Linked DNA regions of Homo sapiens: region 2 is linked to region 1. Evidence: fine-mapped expression QTL. A gene starts in region 1. The other region holds a variant in brackets. All regions are shown on one strand. Distances are from middle to middle.

What was found. PIP is the estimated chance that this variant, and not a neighbour inherited with it, causes the effect.
Region 2: its variant is fine-mapped to the expression of MYL6B in blood mononuclear cells (TOPMed, PIP 0.95).

Annotation. Positions count from the first base shown.
Region 1 is chr12:56,149,773-56,155,139 of GRCh38, forward strand. It overlaps MYL6B (myosin light chain 6B), which reads left to right and starts at 2,815. Exons shown (of 8, transcript NM_002475.5): 1 at 2,815-2,859; 2 at 4,101-4,320; 3 at 5,041-5,068; 4 at 5,283-5,367. The coding sequence starts at 4,147. LOC124902942 reads left to right here and starts at 2,055. Exons shown (of 3, transcript XM_047429954.1): 1 at 2,055-2,275; 2 at 2,634-2,859; 3 at 4,037-4,125. The coding sequence starts at 2,222. The coding sequence ends at 4,071. It overlaps MYL6B-AS1 (MYL6B antisense RNA 1), which reads right to left. Exons shown (of 3, transcript NR_186043.1): 3 at 1,024-1,213. It overlaps LOC124902943 (a long non-coding RNA gene), which reads right to left and starts at 4,101. Exons shown (of 2, transcript XR_007063328.1): 1 at 3,357-4,101. RefSeq lists an enhancer at 1,889-1,968.
Region 2 is chr12:56,229,147-56,234,513 of GRCh38, forward strand. NABP2 (nucleic acid binding protein 2) reads left to right here. Exons shown (of 7, transcript NM_024068.4): 7 at 1-708. The coding sequence ends at 67. SLC39A5 (solute carrier family 39 member 5) reads left to right here and starts at 905. Exons shown (of 13, transcript NM_173596.3): 1 at 905-976; 2 at 1,094-1,149; 3 at 1,685-1,727; 4 at 2,058-2,415; 5 at 3,543-3,726. The coding sequence starts at 2,129. The variant T/C (reference allele first, on the strand shown) is at 2,115.

The sequences.
Region 1 (5,367 bases):
CCAAAGTGCTGGGAATGTTCATGTCTGATTAACCCCAGTTTTGGGAATGCCTCTAAGATTTCTATTTTATCTACTGTTCTTTGTGTAAGAGCATGTACTTACCATAATTTCTCCTTAGATCAAAACAATCTTGATCATAAAGCCTGGCTTACTGAGTATTCTTGCCTTTCCCTGCAGGGTAGACTTCAATTGTCCTAGAGGTTCCTTCCCTGTGGTAAGTCCTGGGGTCAGGACTTACTCCAGGGGATGATGTCCTGGGGATCCACCATCGTGTCTCACCACTACCCAAGACACAGACATGGCTTCTGTTCATAAATTCCTATTAAATATTTCTAAGAAACTGGATTTGTCAGCCTCCTTCCTCAACCTCTTAGCTTCCTTGGACTTTGGGGGTAAGTGTGCATAGACCTGTGCACTGCGGAACAGCTCCCCAATGGCTTTCCATATTCTTTCAATCTAATGGGCCACTCTGGACAGCTGAACATGTGGAGGTTCCTGGAGGACGGCATGCCTAGGGAAGGCAAGCAAGCTTCGGACTCACCTCCCTCCCTGCCCACAAAATGCAATCTCTAAGAATATACAGGCCAGTCAAGGTAGGTCATACCTATAATCCCAGCACTTTGGGAGGCACCTGAGATGGGAAGATCACTTGAGCTCAGTTTGAGACTGGGTAACACAGTGAGACCTCATTTCTAGAAAAAAACAAAACCAAAGAAAAATAAGAATATACAAATCACATGCTAAGCAGGGAGAGGAGAGAGGAGAGACAGGCATTTCTCACAGATAATTCACATATATAATCACCCTATGCCCAGTTAAGACCATGTTTCGTCCAGTTCCTGTTATTTATGATCAAGACAGGGATGGCACAGAAAATGAAGGATAGCCTTCCCATCTCTGCAAGGGTCTTAACGTTTTTTCCCTGTACTACTTCTCTATAGAAAATGCTAGAAAGTCAGATGATGCCATAACCACTCATACTTGGCAAAATGCCAAAAATGGGAAAAGGAAAGAAAAAAAATTACAAGAGCCATATTTTGAAATCAATGTCTGCAAAAGTAATGAAAGCCACACAAAGGCATCTATAATGTGGCCCTTTCCCAGTCTTATAACCACTTAAAAATGTATTCCTTCTTCCTCTCCGTCTCTTCACAACACCTATTGATCCTTACTTCATTGATGTAAAATGGGGAAAATATCAGCGACCTCATACCTTGGGAAGATTAAAGGAAAGTTATTTAACAAAAACTTATACAGCACTTATGCTGTGCCAGGCCTATTCTATTTTACACTTTTTTTTTTTTTTGAGTTGGAGTCTCACTCTGTCACCCAGGCTGGAGTGCAGTGGTGCGATCTCGGCTCACTGCAACCTGCCGGGTTCAAGTGATTCTCCGACCTCAGCCTCCCAAGTAACTGAGATTACAGGCGCCCGCCACCAGGCCCAGCTATTTTTTTTTTTTTTTTTTTTTTTTTTTTTTTTTGTATTTTTAGTAGTGACAGGGTTTCACCATGTTGGCCAGGCTGGTCTCGAACTCCTGACCTCAGGTGACCCACCTGCCTCGCCTCCCAAAGTGCTGGGAGGTGTGAGCCACCAAGCCCGGCCCTATTTTACCAATAATAACACTTCGAATCCTCCGAAGAGCCCTATGAGGTAGGTACCATTATCATTATTTTACAGATGAGGAACTGAGGCCCAGGAGAGATAACTAAACCTGCTGAGGGTCACTAACTAGGACCTGGTAGAACCAGGATTTAAATCTGAGTAGGCTGTCTGAACCCCATCCACTTGAGCACCCTCTGAGATAATTTAGCCCCTTCACCGGTACGAGATCTATGGCGGCCTCCAGAAATGGTTGCTAACTTACTATTATCGTTATTTCTGTCGTACAATTCATTTCTACCTTTCCAATAAACTTTCCCCAACCAGTGAACCTCACTTACTGCCCATAAAGTTCACCTGTGCCTCACCACCCTGCCATCGCCCGAGTTTTCTGCTCTGATCTAATCCTCACACGCCTGTGCAGCACCAGCTTCCAACACCAGGTGCACCGCCAGGGTATTTACTGATCCAGTGAGTGAAGGTGGGCCCGGCCGGGCTGGTTCCCATCCTCTGATCAACGCCTAGGGGAACCAGTGAACTCCAATGCTGACCATAAGAGTTTCAGAAAGTAGGGCTGGAAAGCCCAGCCCTCCGCTCAGAGACCTGTGAAGATCGAGGAGGATGGCGCATATGCTGCCGCAGGATGGAAACCTCGATCAGAGAAGGCTGGGGCAGGTGACTGGGCTTAATTGCAAATTTTAACATTTACTTCAGCAACCAGCTCATTAAAAACAAACTACTCTGAGGCCTCTTTTTTTTCTACCAAACCGCGAGAGGAAGCAAAAGAGAGTGCAGCGGTTCTCCCCGGGGCCGTTAAGTGCTTCCAGCTATCTGACCTCCACGCTGCCTGCTGCAGCCTCAATCTTTCCCCAGGTTCTGAGTTCTTTCAGCAGTAGGTCCAGGAAAACAGCCGCCCCGCCCCCTCCACCTCCCGAGACTAGGAGCCCGCCAGGGTTAAGTAGGAGGGATACCCTAGGGGCCCCGCAGGGTTTTTAGGGTTGGGGTGGATTGGAAATTGTTCATTGCCTTTCAGTTCCGGGACATAAAGCGCGCTGGAAGGACACTGAGTCACCAACCACCGCCATGGGCCGGAAGCCACCGCCCTCGCGTCAACTGCAATCTAGAGCGCGGCGCATCCCGTGAGCCCGCGGGGAACTACGACTCCCGGCATGCTCCGCGGCCACCGGAATTAACCCTTCAGGGCTGGGGGCCGCGCTATGCCCCGCCCCCTCCCCAGCCCCAGACACGGACCCCGCAGGGTGAGTTTTTGGGGGCTGAGGAGGGCCATTTTCTTTAAGATTTAGTGGGGGTGCGTGAGTGTGTGTGTGTGTGTGTGTGTCGTGTGTGTGTGATGTATTTTGTAAAAATGGGACAATTTGCAGTCATGAGATTCAGACGCTGTTTTGCGAATGGGAGACCCAGCATCAACCCCGGGGCCTAAGTGGAATCACTGCTATCTTCCTCAGAATGCTACCTAAATCCTTTCCTAATTTACCCCAGAACAAAAGTAGCCTGCAATCCCTCCCCACTCCCAAACGCCCCCCAACTTGGACTCTCTCCCAGCGCCCCTGGCAAGGTTTGTGACCTGGCCCCTGAGTCAGGATTTTTATTATACCCCTGGTTGTGGGGTGAATACTCATGGAGCCATAGGAGCGCCCACATCCTCTTGGATTAGGGAATTTAAGCCGTCTCCCAGAGCCTGCCCTTCTCCTCAGGTGCCACCAAAGGGTCCCCACAGGTTCAGCAAGCACCCTACCTTTTGTTTGTCTTGAATGACCGTGGGCTTGTGGAAGGTTTCTTCCATGGAAGAATGGGTAGCAGATGTTAAACCTGATCTTTGCCCCCACTCCTGCCCCTAAAACAACACTGGGCACAGGAGACAATGAGGGATGTCATACTCCTGTTTTTATGACTATTCTTCCTTTATACTGTGAATAGTTCCAGTTCTTGGCTGGGTGGGGGCTCAGGAACTACAAGTATTAGGGATCATTAGACTCTAAGGTTAACTACCCCTGCTCTTTACAAAGCCATGGTCAGAAGGGAGTGGAGGGGCTGGGCAGATGGGCTTCTTGTTTTTGTCATTGCTCCCAGACCACACTTTAACTTGTTCCAGTTCACACAAGCCTCCCTGGCTGCTACCCCTCACCCCACCCTTCAAGAAGACTAAAGCTGCTGGATCACCTGCTTTGCCTCACCACCCCCATCTCAGTGCCACTGGCAAGCATCCTATCCTCACCCTGGAGGTTAACTACCTCATTCTGGGCAGTCTCTGGCTTCCTCCCCTACCCCTAAAGGAAACATTGTTCTTTTCTGGTCAGCCTTTGGGGATAAGGGGACAGAGGGAAGAAGACCTTGGGGCAGGAGTCCTGAACCATAGGAGGCCAGGGGAGTGAGGGCAGGCGGTTATATCTCTCCTCTACCTCATCTTTGCCACAGCCAACTGGCTCCCTGCCCCTGCCCCCGCCCCTTGACATCCCAGACTCCCTGGCTATTTAAACAGAGATGGGTGCCCCCATCCGCACACTGTCCTTTGGCCACCGGACATCATGCCTCCCAAGAAGGATGTTCCCGTGAAGAAACCAGCAGGGCCCTCCATCTCCAAACCTGCTGCTAAGCCAGCAGCAGCAGGGGCTCCTCCAGCCAAGACCAAAGCTGAGCCAGCTGTCCCCCAGGCCCCTCAGAAAACCCAGGAGCCTCCAGTCGATCTCTCCAAAGTGGTGGTGAGTCTCTGGAAAGTGAAGATAGAATTGGAGGGGGTGGTTTGAGGGTGGGATACAGCCTAGGGGATTAGGGGGTATCTAGAAGGTAGGGAATCAGTGAGCCCTGGAATGAGATTGGGGCTTTCCCTTAGTCCCCCATTTGGAAGCATCCAGTCTTATGACTCTGCTGTTGTCTTTGCTGTTCTCTCCCTCTAACCTATAATCATGTGTGTACAGCACATACACACTCACTTACCCCCTGCTGGAGGCAGGGACTCTTAGATGGGGAACATCTGGGTTCTGAGAACAGTTTCAAGGTGAAGGGAAGAGAGCTGTTGCCTGCCCCTGGCTGGTGGTTCAATTCAAAAGGCCTGCAGCTCTGAACTCCAGGAGGGGAGGCTGAAGAGGACAGACTTGTTAGACAATCACAGCTGGGGGCCAGGGGTAAATTTAGCCTTTGTTCAGCCCCCAGTTATGTGTGGGATGCAGGGCTCAGGGCAATGGAGGGAGGGAAACAGGTGGCATGGGATTAACCCTGTTCCCAGGAAACCCTCCCCACTGTAATTCCTCTTCTTGGGATTCTCCCAAGGCCCAGAGCTGGGAATGGGACTGAGGTGGCTGGGCTTCCAGCCTGGTCCCTTTGGGCCCCTCCTCAGAAGTGGCTGCCAGTTGGTTGGGAGGAGTGCGGGAGAGGGATTGAATAAACTCTCATCTCTCCCCACCTGCTTTTTTCTTCCACAGATCGAGTTTAACAAGGACCAGCTGGAGGGTGAGGAGAAGCTCATCTAAGGCCACTGTCCCATCCCCAATCCCCTGGTCAGATTCTCTTTCTATTCCCCTAACCCCAGTCCTGACCTTGAAACCTCCCATACTAGTCCTCTTTTCCTCCCTTGTTCTGTTCACATAGTTTCTGAAATTCCCTTCTGTCTGGGGGTGATGGGAACCCTAGTCAGTGTCTACACTGACCCTTCCTTATACTTTAGAGTTCAAGGAGGCCTTCGAGCTGTTTGACCGAGTGGGGGATGGCAAGATCCTGTACAGCCAGTGTGGGGACGTGATGAGGGCCCT
Region 2 (5,367 bases), 79 kb after region 1:
CCCGCCTGGCCCTTCCAGCAACCCTGTTAGTAACGGCAAAGAAACCCGGAGGAGCAGCAAGAGATAGCATGACATTCTTTCTTCCTGCCACCAACCACATCCCAAGTGTCCCCTGGAGAGCAAGATAGCCTTCCACTGATTGGCTGGTGTAGCAGTATTTTAGCCACTGAACTTCAGTGGAGGGTGGTGAGCAGTGTCCTTATCCACCCTAATCTCATACTCCCTCATTGTCCAGCTGAACTACCTGTCCCCTGGGAGTCAGGACCCTCTGCCTGCTCTCTTTCCTCTTTAGAAATGGCAGTTACTGGCTGGGCGCAGTGGCTCACGCTTGTAATCCCAGCACTTTGGGAAGCCGAGGTGGGCGGATCACCTGAGGTCGGGAGTTCAAGACCAGCCTGACCAACATGGAGAAACCCCGTGTCTACTAAAAATACAGAATTAGCCAGGCATGGTGGCGTATGCCTGTAATCCCAGCTACTTAGGAGGCTGAGGCAGGAGAATCTCTTGAAACCGGGAGGCGGAGGTTGAGGTGAGCCGAAATTGCACCATTGCACTCCAGCCTGGGCAATAAGAGCGAAACTCCATCTCAAAAAAAAAAGAAAGAAAGAAAGAAAGAAAGAAAGAAATGGCAGTTACCATCTGTTTCTTCTGTGTGAGACATGGGAGTCTAACTGAAGTCTCTCCTTCCTAATAAATGTTACCACTCTACTCTGTGTTGGACTCCTTTGCTTTCTGTGGGAAAAGGAAGAGGTTAGCAACTAGGCATTTGGGAAGGTGGGGTGTCCCTAGAAGGTGGAAGGAAAATAGGTTACAGGTAAGGAGGCCCAGGCAAAGCAGACCTGCCCCTTTAAGGTAGTGTCCCTCCCCTACCCCCTCCCTGCAGGTGACCCTTGCCCGCCTGCCTGCCTGCCCCCCCAGCTGGAACCAAGAAGGTTGTGTCCCCCTTCCTCTGGGTGTCCTTGTCTCCTGCTATCAGGTAATGCCAACCTCAACCCCCTGGACCAGTCACCCCGATCAGACTTTGCTTGCCTGATTTTAGGCCAGGTCAGACATCAGAGGAGAGCCCAGATCCTTGTTTCCTCTCCCCCCGCAGGGCTTCCCCTTTCTTGGTCATCGATCCCTAGAGCTCTGGCTCTTTCTCTTCTTGGGGTGAGAAACTGCTAAGAACAGTTTATTTCCCATGCATGCATCTGGGCTTGCCACTGATCTGCCTTTTCCCCCCTCCTCCCCAGGTTAGGGACACCTGGGTCCAACCTTCCCAAGGAATATGGGGATGGGGGTTGGAGATGAAGTTTAGTGCTAGACTGTAAGGTAGGTGGGGTGGAAGTACATGAGGGAAAGGGCTAAAATGGTACTAATGGTGTTAAGGATAGGGTGAATTATTTAAGAGGAAAAAGACTAGGCCCAGGTTCTCCTTAGCCATGTGGCTTTCCCAGGGCAGAGGGTGGCCCCTCCCTACCCAGGGGCCCAGCAGAGACTGACTTTTGATCCCTACCCCAGAGACCAGTGAACCATTAACTCCTCTCTTATGTGAGCCTTCACACACTGGCCCCACCCCTGACCCCGCCCCAAGGCAGGTGGGCTAGGAGGGGGTGCATGTCCATCTCAGCCTTCTATGTGACGTGGCCTCCGATCCACCTGGACACCTGGAGGCTAAGCCTGGATTCCCCCTTCCCTGACTCAGGAACTGCTTAACGTCTACAGCAAGGCCTAATAGGGGACCTGAGGTGACAGCTCTTATGTTGCCAGTAGGGGTGAGGCCCTGGGGATTGAGGGGGGATAAAGAGGTGGGGCAAAGTTGAGGGGTGGGGTTTAGGGGACAAGGAATGGACGGTCAGCTCTGGATGAAGTATGAGGAGAGCTCTGACTCAGGGAGGTGCTCCAGGAACCAGCAAACAAGAGGCTGCTCCCGCAGGAGGCAGTGTGAAGGGAGAAAGAAGGCTGCAGTAGGGGCTGCTGCTGGACTCGGTGGGGAGCAGGTGCAAGGAGCTCTGGCTCCCCCATGGACCTGAGCTGGAGAGCAGAGCGCAGCTCCAGCCCATTCCTCATTCTTCCAGGGCACAGTCCTCAGGATGTTTCGGGGAGAATAGGAGCCAGAACCTGAGCCCCTAAGC[T/C]ATTCCCCTCACCAATGATGGGGTCCCCAGTGAGTCATCTGCTGGCCGGCTTCTGTGTGTGGGTCGTCTTGGGCTGGGTAGGGGGCTCAGTCCCCAACCTGGGCCCTGCTGAGCAGGAGCAGAACCATTACCTGGCCCAGCTGTTTGGCCTGTACGGCGAGAATGGGACGCTGACTGCAGGGGGCTTGGCGCGGCTTCTCCACAGCCTGGGGCTAGGCCGAGTTCAGGGGCTTCGCCTGGGACAGCATGGGCCTCTGACTGGACGGGCTGCATCCCCAGCTGCAGACAATTCCACACACAGGTACTGACCCCTTCCTCCACTCCACAGGGCCACATCTCCCAGGTCCTCTCAGTGCTTGCCCCCAGTTGCCTCGTTCTGGCTTCCTCACGAGATCCCTGGAGTTACAAATTCTTCAGAACCGAGCTCCTTGGTATCTCTTCAAAACCTCTCATGCTTCTATTGCCTTCTCTCTCTTTTCTTGAGACTGGGGGTCTCGCTTTGTCACCCAGGCTAAAGTGCAGTGACACATTCACGGCTCACTGCAACCTCTGCTTCCCAGGCTGAAGCCATCCTCCCACCTCAGCCTCCTGAGCAGCTGGGACCATAGGCACACACCACCACAGCCGGCTAATTTTAAAAATTTTTTACAGAGACAAGGGTTTCGCTGTGTTGCCCAGGCTGGTCTCAAACTCCTGGGCTCAGCTCAGCGATCTGCCTGCCTCAGCTTCCCAAAGTGCTGGGACTACAGATGTGAACTACCACCCTAGCCCTCCGTTGCCTTCTAATTCTCTCCTCCTCCAAATCTCTAAGCCCTTAAATTTCTTGCTCTTAGTATCACTGTTCAGTGTCTCTGGGCTGATTTGGCTCCAAATTCGTAGACTTCTTTTTTCTTTTCTTTTCTTTTTTTTTTTTTTTTTTTTTTGAGACAGAGTCTCGCTCTGTCGCCCAGGCTGGAGTGCAGTGGTGTGATCTTGGCTCACTGTAACCTCTGCCTCCCCGGTTCAAGCGATTCTCCTGCCTCGGCCTCCTGAGTAGCTGGGATTACAGGCACACACCACCACGCCGGGCTAATTTTTGCAATTTTAGTAGAGACGGGGTTTCACCATTTTGGTCAGGCTGGTCTCGAACTTCCAACCTCAGGTGATCCACCCACCTCAGCCTCCCAAAGTGCTGGGATTACAGGCGTGAGCCACCGTGCCCAGCCATTCGTAGCCCTTTTGGTTGTCGTCCTTTTTTTTCTGTCCCCCCCAGTGGCAGAAAATGGACAACTCACAGATCTTCCTAAGAATGACATTCCATGGTTTCTGGGTCCCAGGATCTCCAGTCAGTGGCTAGTCCCCCCATTCCCCCTAAAATCCCTGGGAGCCTCTCAAAGCGGGTTGATAGAGAACACAAGGGAGGCTGACTTGCTGTCTCATCCATTCCAGGCCACAGAACCCTGAGCTGAGTGTGGATGTCTGGGCAGGGATGCCTCTGGGTCCCTCAGGGTGGGGTGACCTGGAAGAGTCAAAGGCCCCTCACCTACCCCGTGGGCCAGCCCCCTCGGGCCTGGACCTCCTTCACAGGCTTCTGTTGCTGGACCACTCATTGGCTGACCACCTGAATGAGGATGTGAGTCTGACGGTCTCTAGAGGGGAAGGAGCCATGGGATTAGATGGCCTGAAATGTTTAAATAATCAGTAGTTTTTTGTTTTGTTTTGTTTTTAAATCCCAACGTGGACCAAGCGTGGTGGCTCACGCCTGTAATCCCAACACTTTGGGAGGCCGAGGTGGGTGGATCACCTGAGGTCAGGAGTTCGAGACCAGCCTGGCCAACATGGTGAAACCCCATCTCTACTAAAAAATACAAAAATTAGCCGGGTGTGGTAACAGGTGTGTGTAATCCTAGCTACTCAGGAGGCTGAGGTGAGAAAATTGCTTGAACTTGGGAGGCAGAGGTTGCAGTGAGCCAAGATGGCACCATTTGCACTCCAGCCTGGGCAACAAGAGGGAGACTCTGTCTCAAAAAAAAAAAAAAAAAAAAAAAAAAAAAAAAAAAAATAGCTGGGCGTGGTGGCACATGCCTATAATCCCAGTTACTCGGAAGGCTGAGGCAGGAAAATCACTTGAACCCAGGAGGCGGAGATTGCAGTCAGCCGAGATTGCACCACTGCACTCCAGCCTGGGTAACACAGCGAGACTCTGTCTCAAAAATGAAAATAAAAAAAATAAAAAAATAAAAAAAAAATATCTCACTGTGGTCTTAGGGGATGTTATTTCAATAGTGAACTATGTTCCCTCTGGGATCAGAGCAGGTGAGCCCATATCCAGAGCTCCAAGACTCAGTTTAGGGGAATAGATGGCAAAGCAGAGAATCTAGAGAAGCAGCCCAGGGTAGGATCTGGATGGTCACCTGGAGAGGAGACCTGCAGGGAATGGATGGCTGTCTTCATCCAGAAAGACAGAGAATATATTCCACTTACACCAGAGGGCAGACAAAGCTGCCTAACCCTGATGGAGGTCCAGTGAGTGCCCATTGCAGGAAGCATTCAAGCTGAGGCTGGATGAACATCGACAGGGCTGTTGAGAGGGAGATTAGATGGCATTTCAGGGTCTTTTCCCTTTTAAGATTCTGGCATGGAGAGCTCTAGTTTTCCAACCAGCTTCATTTATCAAATCAACAAAATGATTGAAATGATCAGAGTTTGCAGGGAAGATGATGACAATGCTCACTAGCACCCAGTTTGCATCAAATTGAATACCTGCATTGGACTGAATATTCACTAATAATACACATTGATTATAAGTACCCTTGGCCCTAGTCCCCAAGGTACCTGCCAGTAGGAGCAAAGGGGACCCTGGGAGAGACCCAGGAGTCTATGCAATGGAAGGACAGGTGTTAAATATATATATATATATTTTTTTGAGGTAGAGTCTGACTCTGTCACCCAGGCTGGAGTGCAATGGCGTGATCTTGGCTCACTGCAACCTCCACCTCCTGGGTTAAAGCAATTCTCCTGCCTCAGCCTCCCGAGTAGCTGGGATTATAGGTGTTCACTACTATCCCCAGCTAATTTTTTTTTTTTTTTTTTGAGATGGAGTCTCACTCTGTCGCCCAGGCTGGAGTGCACTGGTGCAATCTCGGCTCACTGCAACCTCTGCCTCCTGGGTTCAAGCGATTCTCCTGTCTCAGCCTCCTGAGTAGCTGGGATCACAGGTGCACGCCACCATGCCCAGCTAATTTTTTGTATTTTAGTAGAGACAGGGTTTCAC